Linked DNA regions of Homo sapiens. The protein of the gene in region 1 purifies or fractionates together with the protein of each later gene. This does not show direct contact. Each region holds a gene or a part of one and is shown in the gene's direction. Other genes may lie near its edges.

Region 1 (7,065 bases):
CGTGAAGTCAATGAAAAATCTGCCTCAGAATAAAGTAGTATTTTATTTCATAGACTGGCCTTTAGGTTCTTGTACTTGCCTAATTAACTGTTACTTTAAAAACATAAACATTAGGGTCAGGCACGGTGACTCATGACTGTAATCCCAGCACTTTGGGAGGCCAGCGTGGGCGGATTGCTTGAATCCAGGAGTTGGGGACCAGCCTGGGCTACATGCCAAAACCTTGTCTCTACAAAAATTACAAGAATTACTTGGGTGTGGTGGCACCCGCTTATAGTCCCAGCTACTGGGGAGGCTGAGGTGGGAGGATCGCTTCAGCCTGGGAGGTGGAAGTTGCAGTGAGCCAAGATCACACCACTGCACTCCAGCCTGGGCGACAGAGTGAGACCTTGTCTTTAAAAATACATATATATGTATATATATATAAACACTAAGGCTGTCACTATTTTCAAGGGGGAAGAAAAAGACTTGTGGGTTATTGGAACACAGTTGATGGGGTCAAACTCAGGATGGGGTTTGGAATCCTAGCCTCTCCCTATATTTGGTCTTGTAAGCAGTTGGTACCACAGCTTTTTTGGTTAATAAATAGGCATGTTTATTTTTTTGAATCATGATATTTTTGAGTCAGTTAATTAAGGTATTTTATGTAAGGCATTTTTGTTTATTACTGTTACATTTCAAATGTGTATTTATTTGAAAACTTGAACATGAAAAAACAAGAGGCTGCAGAAAACCCAGCTAATATTAACAGAACTGCTTTTAGAATAAGGACATTGCCTGTTTACTTTTTGGTATTCAAATAACTAAAACAGTTTGGGATTTTATTCAAGGTAGAAGAACTGGAACATTTTTGGGGAGTCACTCAGTTTAAAGAGGCATTGTTCATCATTTTTATCAACCTCCAATTATAGAAGTTTTGGAAAAATTACATACATGTGACCATTGGGCATTCGGCATTAGGTTTTCTTTTTTTCTTTTTCTTTCTTTTTTTTTTTTTTTTTTTTTTTTGAGACAAGGTCTCACTCTGTTGCCCAGGCTGGAGTGCAGTGATGTTATCTCAGCTCACTAAAATCTCTGCCTCCTGGGTTCAAGCAATTCTTGTGCCTCAGCTTCCCGAGTAGCTGGGATTACAGGCGTGCAGCGCCACGCCCAGCTAATGTTTTGTATTTTGAGTAGCGACAGGTTTTTGCCATGTTGGCCAGTCTGGTCTCTAACTCCTGGCCTCAAGTAATCCACCCACCTCGGCCTCCAGTGTGCCCAGCCAGCATTAGGTTTTCAGCTGTCAGTTGTGTTTGTGAGTACTGCTTATTGCCTTCAATGGGTATGCTAGTACTGCTTTTTCTAAGCCAAATTCCCTTTTGGTTAATCAAACATTGCTAACTGAAATCTTTTCCTTTGCAGATATATTTACAGTAGATCGAGTTAGAGTACTTTAATCTTCTTGCTCTGTCTACTGTGGGAAAGAGAATATGCGAGGACTCTAAGGATCTTAATAGTGTGTCTTCCATGGAGCCTCTTACCCTGAGTATCAAAAGCTCTGGGCCAGAACTTTCATAAAGTTTTTGACTGGTGGGAAGAAGTATTCCCATTAAAGTGGGTTGAGGTTTAAAGGGGTATTAATCCCACTCAGATTTCAAAGTTATGTGGTCAAGTAGTTACAAAGAACTTAGTGTATACAACCCTCCATGGTAACCCCCCTGCCCACCCCCATCTCTTTTAAGGTAGACCTCCTGCATGAACTTTCCTCCAGGGCCAGCCCAGCCTGTCCTTGATACACACTCACATCCCATTCTTTTCTCTGATTCTCTGAAGCAGTGGTTTGCAGGGGGTTTTTTTGTTTTGTTTTTTTTTTGAGACAGAGTCTCGCTCTGTCACCCAGGCTGGAGTGCAGTGGCGCGATCTCGGCTCACTGCAAGCTCCTTCGACCAGGTTCAAGCAATTCTTCTGCCTCAGCCTCCCGAGTAGCTGGGACTACAGGTGCCCACCACCACACCTAGCTAATGTTTTTTTGTATTTTTAGTAGAGACGAGGTTTCACTATGTTAGCCAGGATGGTCTCGATATCCTGACCTCATGATCCGCCTGCCTTGGCCTCCCAAAGTGCTGAGATTAAGGCATGAGCCACCACACCCGGCCTGCAGTTCTTTTTAATTGGTGATGCTATTTTGTTTTATTTTCCTTCCTAATTAGGTTATATCAGAACCTTAAGAAAATAAAAAATCTCTCTCATTGGAAGAACAGAAAGCTACTGCTGTGACCTTTATCTTTGTCTCCCTGTAATACTTCTATGGTATGCTCAAAAACAAAAGACTGGCCAGGCACGTTGGCTGACGCCTGTAATCCCAGCAATTTGGGAGGCCGAGGCGGGCGGATCATTTGAGGTCAGGAGTTCAAGACCAGACTGGCCAACATGGTGAAACCCTATCTCTACTAAAAATACAAAAAAAATGAGACGGGCATGGTGGCATGTGTCTGTAATCCAGCTACTTGGGAGTCTACGGCATGAGAATCTCTTGAACCCAGGAGGTGGAGCTTGCTGTGAGCCGAGATCACGCCACTGCACTCCAGCCTGGGTGACAGAGTGAAACCCTGTCTCACAAACAAACAAACACAGACTTACATTCCAGCTCACCGCCTAGAATTTGAGCCGCTTGGTTGCCTGGGTGTGGTCACTCATAGCCAGTTTTTTTTCTGCAGGATTTTCAGTCAATGCATCATCGGAGCGACTCAACATGGGTGAAATCGAGACGTTGGATGACTACTGAGCACCTGCCAGTGGACTGGCCATCCCTCTCCTGTCTGCCGACTATGGAGTCTCCACCTTTGGACACAACACTTACTCACCATTTACTCTTTATCACTCTGCAACAAATCACAGAACCGATCATCTCAGGCTTTTTCTTCTGGCCCTTTGTGTCCAAGATTCTTTAATCCATTTTTGTTGGTGAACATCTCAGACTATAGATAAGTGGACTGGACCCTGTGTCTTGGGGGTGGCAGTTGGGATTACTCCCCAACAAGGCTGATTTTAGGCAGCATGTGTTCACTGTGCTGTGATTTCATCTACTGTCTCCCAGAAAGTGTGTTGGGATCGGCCATTAGCAGCTTGCTTTCTCTTGTCACTTTTTTTCTTCTATTTTGTTTTTTCTTCTTCTTTTTCCCCCCATCAGGGCAAATGGTCTAACTGGTGCAATCATGAAGAGAGTTAATGGTTAACAGACATTGGCCAATAACAAAACACCCCATGGACTGTGACTCGAGTATCCAACAGGCAGTCAGAGCTCTCCCGGTCTGAAAGTTGCATTGCCACTGCTAACTTTGGGATTGCATCAGAGAGGCCCTGAGTGGGGTTGAGATGAGGTTGGTTTGGTTTGATGTTACACACTCCTCACCTGTTCTTTCTGAGTGTCCTTTCTCTGAAAGGATTTATGTTTTTCTTCGTTAGATAGTGACTTCTGAGCAAGCTGATCTCCCCTGGCATGCTCCAACCTGATTGGACAAAGGAAGCTCTATGGCCTGGGAGAGAGACTATTCTTAATTTTTCTTTCTTACAAAAACTGATTTTTCCCATAAATATTTTTACTTCAGAGGACTAGGACCATTTTGTTTTGGGCCCTTCTGCTGAAAATTTGTCTCGTTTAAGAGGCAGCTAGAATCTTTACCATATGTATGAATTTGTATAATTTCATTTTTGGATAGGGATAAACTTTTGCTTCTGATAAAAGCCTGGAATTTCATCTGGTCCTCAGAGCATTGCGTGTGTGTCTTGCTGTAGCCCGGAAAAGGTTTTGTGTAAAGATTCTGGGATGGCAAGTTGTTTGCCTTTTCTGAAAAGAGAACATACAGAACCTGTCCATCTTTAAGACCTTCATCCATGGAATCTACTATACAGGAGGATGCAGTGGGCTGGAGGGGATGGGCGAAAATGGGAGCAGGAAGCCTGGCCTGGCTTCTGGTCATGGCCTCCTAAAACCTTAAACTTCAAGTAGAAATGTACTCAAGCCCTATTTATAAACAAATACTTTTCCTGCCTCCACCAAACCCCTACAGAACATCACCTGGAATTGCCACTCACACTGGGTTGGAGTCATTGGGCAGCTGTGCCTGTGCGAGAGGTGCTGTGGTCTGGGCAGCCCCTGGAAAAGCACCTTTGCTGCCTGTCATTGTTGCCTGAAGAAGGCTGGAGTTGCTCTGAGAGCAGTTTGGGTTTGGAGTATTATATTTGGCTTCTATTTTTATTATTTTGGATCACCATTCTCCCTATCCCTTCTTGCCTCCCTCCCTTCTAAACATGTGTAATAACTATACAGAGACTGCTACAAAATTGTATATAGTTTTTGGATCAAATAGCATGAGGGGAGAGGAAACCATTAAAAGTTGGGGCTCCTACTCTCCTTTGCTTTGTAAATTCAAAAGTTGGGGGTGGGTAAGAGGGATAGTTAAAATGTTTACAAAACTTTAGGCTCCCTCGGAACTTTTGCCAGTGTGGAGGAAAATAAAAAAGAACTTAAATAAAATCTGATTGTATTCTATCTGAGTGCACCTCTTGTACTCACCTTTATGGAGGCTGAGTTCTGCACTAAACTGTTCCTCTTGGTACCATGGAAAAGCTCCAAGCACCCAAGACATGGAGGCAGCCATGGCTTCTTTCTCTGCCAGACCACGTAGCACTGGCTGGTTCTGTATTTGAGAATGTAGAGGTCAAGGCAGATGTCGGTAAGTTTGACCAAATATCTTTTCTCTTTTTGACTCTCCCTTTCTGCTAACATGTGGATCAGCTCCTGCCCTCATACCGCAGACACACCCACTCTGAACACACCCCTCCAGAGCTTGCCCACACCTTCCCAACTAGACTCTGTGTGTGTATTCAGGAAAAATGAAAATAAATTTTTAAAAATTGGGAGTGGAATGGGCAGATTAGGGGGAACAAAGTCATTTTGGTCATGGAACATCCATTTGCTTAACCAAGGAGACTTGCTTCTATCTGAGGAATTTCCCACTTAGTAGAAAGAAACACTCTTCCCTGGGAATGTTTGTTTCTGTCTCTCTCAATGCTACTCTCTTTCATATTCTCATTTGCTCACCCTTTCACTTAGAGCCACCGTTTTCTCATCCCATTCTATGAACTTATTTCCAAATTCTCCTAACTATTCCTGAGTTTTGAAGTATTTGTTTTGTACCCTCTCTGCTTCCGGTTTTTTGTTTGGTTGGCTTTTTTGGAGATAGGGTCTTGTGATGTTGCCCACACTGGTCTCGAGCCCCTGGGCTCAAGTGATCCTCCCGCCTCAGCCTCCTAAATATCTAGGACTACAGGTGTGTGCCACCATGCCCAGCTCCAGTTTTGTTGGTTGATTTGTTTAAATTCAGAGATTTAAAAACATCCCAGACAAGACAGTTTGATTATGGAGACTGTCCCCAAGCAGATTGGTGTGCTGGTGGCTGCTGTGCATAACAGATTCCCTCCAGATTGGCTTACAACAGCTACTTCATTCTGTGGGTCAGGAATTTGGATAGGGCTCAGCTGGGTGGTGGTTCTCCTGGGGTATTCTTTGGTTGTGGTCAGATGTCTTCCAGGGCATCATTCCTATGAAGGCTTAATGAATTAGGCAAGCTGTCCAAGATGGCTCACTCGTGTAATGACAGTTGACGTTGGCTGTAGGCTGGGAACTCAGCTGGGTTGATGACTGGAGGAGCTTATGTGTGTCGTCTCCGGAATGGCAGCTTCAGAGGAGTTGAACTTAAGTGGTGATTGGCTTCCCCCAGAGAACCAGGCAGAAGCTGTGTTACCTTTTTGAGCTCTTAGCTCAGGAGTCACATAGAGTCACTTCTGTGACACTGTGTTGCATCAAAGTAGTCACAAACCCACTCAGATTCAAGAGAAGGGAGCATGGCCCTCTCCCTGCAACCCCCTCCCCCCCCGCCTTGATGAAAGGAGTGACAAGGTCACATTGGAGAAGAGCTTGTGGGGTGGGAGATATTATAGCCATTTTTGGGAAATATCTGCATAAAATGAGTTTATGCATACATGAAGGACTTTATTTTCATTGGCTTTAAGTTGAGGGTTTTTGTTTTTGTTTTTGTATTGGAGATGGGTTCTTACTATGTTGCCCAGGCTGGTCTCAAACCCCTGGGCTCAAGTGATCCTGTTGCCTCAGCCTCCCAAGTAGCTGGGACTACAGCTATGTGCCAGTGCACCCAGCTTGTTTTTTTTAAATTTTAGGATAGATAATGGTACTTCTGGCTTTATTTAAATAATTTTTTTAGGGAAACCATTGTATTTATACATGCATATATTTTTATATATACAAATATGTATATAAAAGTATATGTTTTACATTTTCAATATATATATAATATATACATATATGTTATATACGTATATATATTGCACCCTACTTTAAAATTGACTGATAACAAAATTGGTAATTTTGTATAAAATGCCCAACTGTGCATTATTAATAAAAGTATGTGAATGACTCTAATTAAACAGAAGTGATTCTTTGAAATGAACATATTCTGTACTGTCCTTCCAATATGTGACGTAGATCATTTTCAACAGAGTAGCAGGCAAGCGCATTCTACAGAGAGTAAAGTACAATCAGAGCACATTCCAAATGGAAGTTGGCCTTATAGTTAATGAGTTTCTTAGAACAACAAAAGCCCAGCTATGAAGGGTGCCTTTGGTCCTGCGTGAGTTCAGTCTCTGGTGAGGAAGCTGCAATGCTTTCTAAGACTCTGGAGAGTCTGGGAACCTTGAAGCAGCCAGATGCGTGATAGTTATTTGCAGGTGTTGCCTGAGAACGATGGACACGTATAGCTTTTGGTAGTGCTGGTTTTGGACTGGGAACCTAAAACCTTCAAGAGGACAGTTTCCCTCCAAAGAATTAATCAGTGGGAATGTTTTGCAACAAAAGTGTCAACCATAGCAGTGGGGCACCACATGGGAGAAACAGCATATAGATGCTGGCAAGGAAGAAGTGGGCTCTTTACCTAACAGCTGATCTTCGACCTAAAAGTTGTCATTGCGTTCCCTTTCATTGCTGCCAAAGCGATGACATCATGGGGA
Region 2 (5,018 bases), on another chromosome or scaffold:
GAGAATTGTTGAACAATCCCTCAGCTGTTTTCCTCGTGAGCAGAATCTAAAATAAGACCTGGAATGACCAGTGCAAATACTTTTGCCTGGTGTAGAGATTCCCACCACGAGGCCATCAGGGGTGGGACTCTGGGGCCTGCGTGACCCACCGTGTGCCACGCACCCTGCCTTTGCAGATTGGCTATCGGCATGTGGTGGATGCTACTCTTCAGGAGGAGGCCTGCTCGCTGGCCAGCTTGCTGGTGTCGGTGACCAGCAAGGGAGTTGTGACGTGCATGAGGAAAGTGGGGAAGGGCAGCCTGGACCCAGAGAGCATCTTCGAGATGATGGAGGTGAGGCCTTAGTTCTGAGGAAGGTGCAGGGACCTGGCCGGGGTGCCTGCTGCTTCCTGCTCCCTTGGTCATACCGTGGGGATTCTCCCCATTCACAGCCTTGACCCCAAACTTGGAGATTTGGGAACAGCTGGTTTGAGCCAGGGGTCTGCTGACCTAATCAAGGGGGGTTGTGGGGGTGGATACTCTGGACTGGGAGGTAAGGAGCCTACCAGTAACCATTAATTGTCCTCAGTAAGTACCCCCCATCTCATTTCTATGTGTCTAAATAAGACTGTTGGACTTTCATAATGTAAAGAGCCACTCGTAACTCCAAAAGTGCAGGCCTTTGTGACTTGATGAGGGAATAGAATTCTTGGCTCACTGCTTCCTGTCCCTAGAAGTGGGTGAGTAAAGGTGGAAGCACGGGCTGAACTGTGGCTGTCTCCCAAATTCGTTACAGCTCTAGAAGTGTTTAAATGGAGACAAGCAGGGATGGTAAGAAATCTGACCCACTGGAGTTGGGTTGGGTTGCCCTCATCCCTAGCAGAGCCATCAAGGCGCTTCTACAGTTCTCTGTACTGTTTGCCCCACATGTCTGTCACCTCACTGGCCTGGAAGCCCCGCAGGGCAGGGACAGGGTCCTGCTCACCTGTTTCCCAGACCTTCTTTCCCCTATATCCACCTCACCTTTCTGACTGATTGACTGACTGAACTTCCAGGAACAGAGTTAGCAGGATCTGATTATTCATACTTTCTTGCAACCTCTATATCACCACACATGCCCAGAGATCATTGCTTAATAGCAAGCACTCTTCTTTTGTGTTTAGAAACAATGACTTCATACTGAAGAATCCAAGAACATGACATCTACTTTCTCTCTTTATCATGTTATTTAAAAGGCCAAAATGAGCACTGTATATAGCATGGAGTTCCCAACCATGGGCTGTGAGGGTGTACTGCCCTGGCTGCAAACCTGGCTCTGGGCCATAGTCCCCCTCATCTGCAAAGTGGGACTGATAATAGTAATATCTGCCCAGACACTGCTGAGGTTGTTATTAGGATGATGTGAGGTGTAGAGGAGAAGCACATGTCACAGTGCCTGATATGTCATCAGTTCTCAGCTAATGGCAGCTCTTATTCTCTGTGCTCCATGAAGCACCCTGAGTTCAAATTTCTCCAGACTTAATGCTGCATAAATTCTACCAAAGTCCTCTAGGCAAGGGACTGTCAAACCTTGTTTTAGAAGGTACTCTTCCCCCTCCCAGGAGAGTTTATGAGAATTTCTTTAAACAGCAACAACAAGCACAGTAAACAAATAGCTGGAGTTTATTGTGTGCGTACTATGTGCCAGATACTGTTTTCACTGCTTTAAATATATCATTTAGTCCTCAACAACCTGTGAGGTAACTATTATTATTGTCCTCATTTTTACAGATGAGGAAACTGAGGCACACAGAGGATAAGCAGCTTGCCTACAGGCCTCCCTGCTCATAAATACTGGAGCTAGGATTTAAGCCAAGACTGTGTGCGTCCAGAGCCCCTGCTCCCAGCCACTGTGCAATGTCAGCCTTATAAACCAGATCTGCCCTGGCTGTCATAGATGGCAGAACCAGAGCTCTGTTCAGTGAGCTGAGCTTTGTCCTCCCCTCAGGTTTGGGGAGTGAGGTCTGCTAACTCTGGACAGGGGACTATAGCTCTGTGGCCCTGTCTTACTGTTTATCTCACACAGGGATGCAGCAATCTGGAAAATGACTTGGTGGAGCTGAGAGCCTTGGGGGTAGTTGTGCAGGCTGCCACCCCTAGCCTCTGCAGTTGCTTTCCTGCATCTGGATTCAGAGGCGTCAAGGCCCTCTCAAGTCCTGGCATCCTGTCCATCTCATCTCCTCTTGTTGTCCTCTCTCCCCACCCTCATGTATATGAATAATCAGTACCCCTGTTTGACAGATTCAGACTTTTTTTTCTTTTTCTAATGTTATGGGAAAATCTTTCCAAAGGCCCTTTTTTTTTTTGAGATGGAGTCTCACACTATCGCCCAGGCTGGAGTGCAGTGGTGCGATCTCAGCTCACTGCAACCTCCGCCTCCCTGGTTCAAGTGATTCTGCCTCAGCTTCCCGAGTAGCTGGGATTGCAGGTGCCCGCCACCACTCCCAGTTAATTTTTTTGTATTTTTAGTAGAGACGGGGTTTCAGTATGTTTGCCAGGCTGGTCTTGAACTCCTGACCTTGTGATCTGCCTGCCTCAGCCTCCCAAAGTGTTGAGATTACAGGCATCAGCCACCACATCCAGCCCCCGAAGGCCTTTTTGACCTTTAACCCTGACTTTGCATTTCATAGAGGTGATCACTTCCCAGCCTTTTAGATCGAAATCATCTTTTCATAAGAGTTTTAGTCATACTTGGGATCTCATCCCATGTTACAGTTAGGGGCCAGGGGAGAAGACACACAAGTCATTACTCTGGGGAGGATACACCTGTAACTGAAGAGATTGAGGCAGGGATTTAGGCATGGATGTTTTTATCTCAACATTGTTGAGAATGGAACCAGTGGCAGAGTTGAATCCACACTGCTATGGGAATGTGAAAGACCTGATAAGGTAGAGATTTGTGGTTGGTTCTTTGTATTCTTAAAATGATTCTTGGGCCCAGAGACAGAATAACAGTTTCATAAAGAAAAATATATTTTTTTATATTGGGGTGGTGGTTGTTTTTTGAGACAGGGTCTTGCTCTGTTATCCAGGCTGGAGTACAGTGGCACAGTCACAGCTCACTGCAGCCGTGAACTCCTGGGCTCAAACAATCCTCCCATCTCAGCCCCCTGAGTAGCTGGGTCTACAGGCGCATACCACCATGCACAGCTAATTTTTAGTTTTTTGTAGAGATGGGGTTTCACTCTGTTGCCCAGTCTGGTCTTGATCTCCTGGCCTCAAGCAAAATCCTCTTGCCTTGGCCTCCAAAAGTGCTGGGATTACAAGCATGAGCCACTACTCCCAGCCATATTGAGTTTTTTTGTTTTGTTTTGTTTTTGTTTTTGTTTTTTTTACCTCTCGTGTCTGCTCTGTAGGGACTGATTATTAATTTTGTGGGTTGTCCCTCTTGATGTGTTTCGATTCTAACATTTCACTGCCTTTAGCATCTCAGCATGGCAGTAAACACCAAAGATCCCATCCAGGTACTGACTTTGGTCACACCTGAGCAGTTCTGCTTAGAGGCTTCATGGGAGGTGAATGAGAAGCTGCTTACTAAAATGTCCTTGGCATCATCTGTTTCTTCTCCAGACAGACTCTGGATTCCCTGTGGTCTCCCTATAGTACAGTGTCACCTGGCTGTACCCAAGCCCAGATTTGATTGACAACTTTGTTGCTTGTTGCAGTGGCAGCAGGATAGTGAAGCATGAGCTAATGGCCAGGGCAGGCTTTGCTGCTCTCTGTTTGTTGCCTGGTGGGGGCTGGTGTTTGTCTCTCTTTTTTATTTTTTTGATATGACGATTTTTACAAAATTTATTATGTTGTTGGGGTCTGTGGTTTTTGTTTTAATTTGCTTTAATTAAATAAAAGTCCTCTAAGGCAGATGGAATGTGTACAATGTCAGAAAGACTAGCTGGCAGAAAGGAATGCTTTTCTGGTCAGAGTGTGTGTGCCTTACAAGGGGGTGTGTGCTCTCTCCCGTCCCTTCTCCACAGACTGGCAAGCGTGTGGGCAAGGTACTGCATGCCTCCTTGCAGAGTGTTGTGCACAAGGAAGAAAGCCTGGGGCCCAAGAGACAGAAAGTTGGATTCCTGGGATGATTTGCACATCAACTGCTCAACTGTGGATTGTTTTTTACTTTTCCTTTTAAACCGGTTCGTATATATTTTTCTTCGCTGTTACGAATTTACAGCAGCATTTGTACATGTAAAATTAAAGGCTATTTTCTGGTCTGGTTTGGTATGTCTAGAGTTCTTCAGTTGAAGCCAAGGCACCATTCAGTGACCCATCTGGGTCTGGCCCTTATCTAGTGAGTGGCAGACAAATCCAGAGCTCTGCCACCAAGGGAGACCCCCACAAGCTGGAGTAAAGACCTGACAGAAACTGGTTTACAGGAAATGCTTATGATATGTATTTTGTGAATTTTTTTCCCCTTGAAGAACTTTAAAAATAAGAATCACAAAGAAAAGTTCATTCACCTTGTGTATTTGGGTGGTTCTGGGAGAGGAAAAAAGAGGAGGCACTCTGCTGCAGGTACACACCCAGGGCGTCTGTCTGTCTGGTTAGCCATCCCAAATCCTGGGAAAGTCCAGCTCTGACTTCCTGCCCTCCAAGAGATCCGAATGGAATTCCCTAGGTTCAGGGGCTTTAGTGGCAGCCACTTTGGCCCTTAGCCATCCTTTCTTATCACTCTTGTTTTGAAATTGCTTTGTGTTTTATAACCACTCCCTGGTGTTTCCTAAGATTTTGTTTTGTCAGCATTAAGAAGGCAGCTTTCAAGATGTTGTCATTTGATAATTCAGCTGCCTTCATGCTCTCAGCATTGAAAGGAAGACTATGCTTGCTGGCCCAGAAGGCTCTTCCTATAAGCCTGTAGTCTCACTGTGCAGTGTGTTAAAATTAAGTCTCTTCATGTGTAGAGCAGCCTTTGTTTTTTTTTCTAGGGGAACTGAAACTCCTAAATCTTAAAACACCCTGGGGAAGGAGCTGATTCACGAAGGAGAGCGTTTCAACCGTGGCATT

What was found.
Region 2: the proteins of GIGYF2 (region 1) and EXOSC7 purify together in Homo sapiens (affinity purification with mass spectrometry; 2 studies listed by BioGRID). This does not show direct contact.

Annotation. Positions count from the first base shown.
Region 1 is NC_000002.12:232,854,097-232,861,161, forward strand, and holds the end of GIGYF2 (GRB10-interacting GYF protein 2), read left to right. Parts: intron 1-2,696; coding exon 2,697-2,764; 3' UTR 2,765-6,509; downstream 6,510-7,065. UniProt on the Homo sapiens protein: Key component of the 4EHP-GYF2 complex, a multiprotein complex that acts as a repressor of translation initiation. In the 4EHP-GYF2 complex, acts as a factor that bridges EIF4E2 to ZFP36/TTP, linking translation repression with mRNA decay.
Region 2 is NC_000003.12:45,007,244-45,012,261, forward strand, and holds the end of EXOSC7 (exosome complex component RRP42), read left to right. Parts: intron 1-176; coding exon 177-332; intron 333-3,991; coding exon 3,992-4,096; 3' UTR 4,097-4,228; downstream 4,229-5,018. UniProt on the Homo sapiens protein: Non-catalytic component of the RNA exosome complex which has 3'->5' exoribonuclease activity and participates in a multitude of cellular RNA processing and degradation events.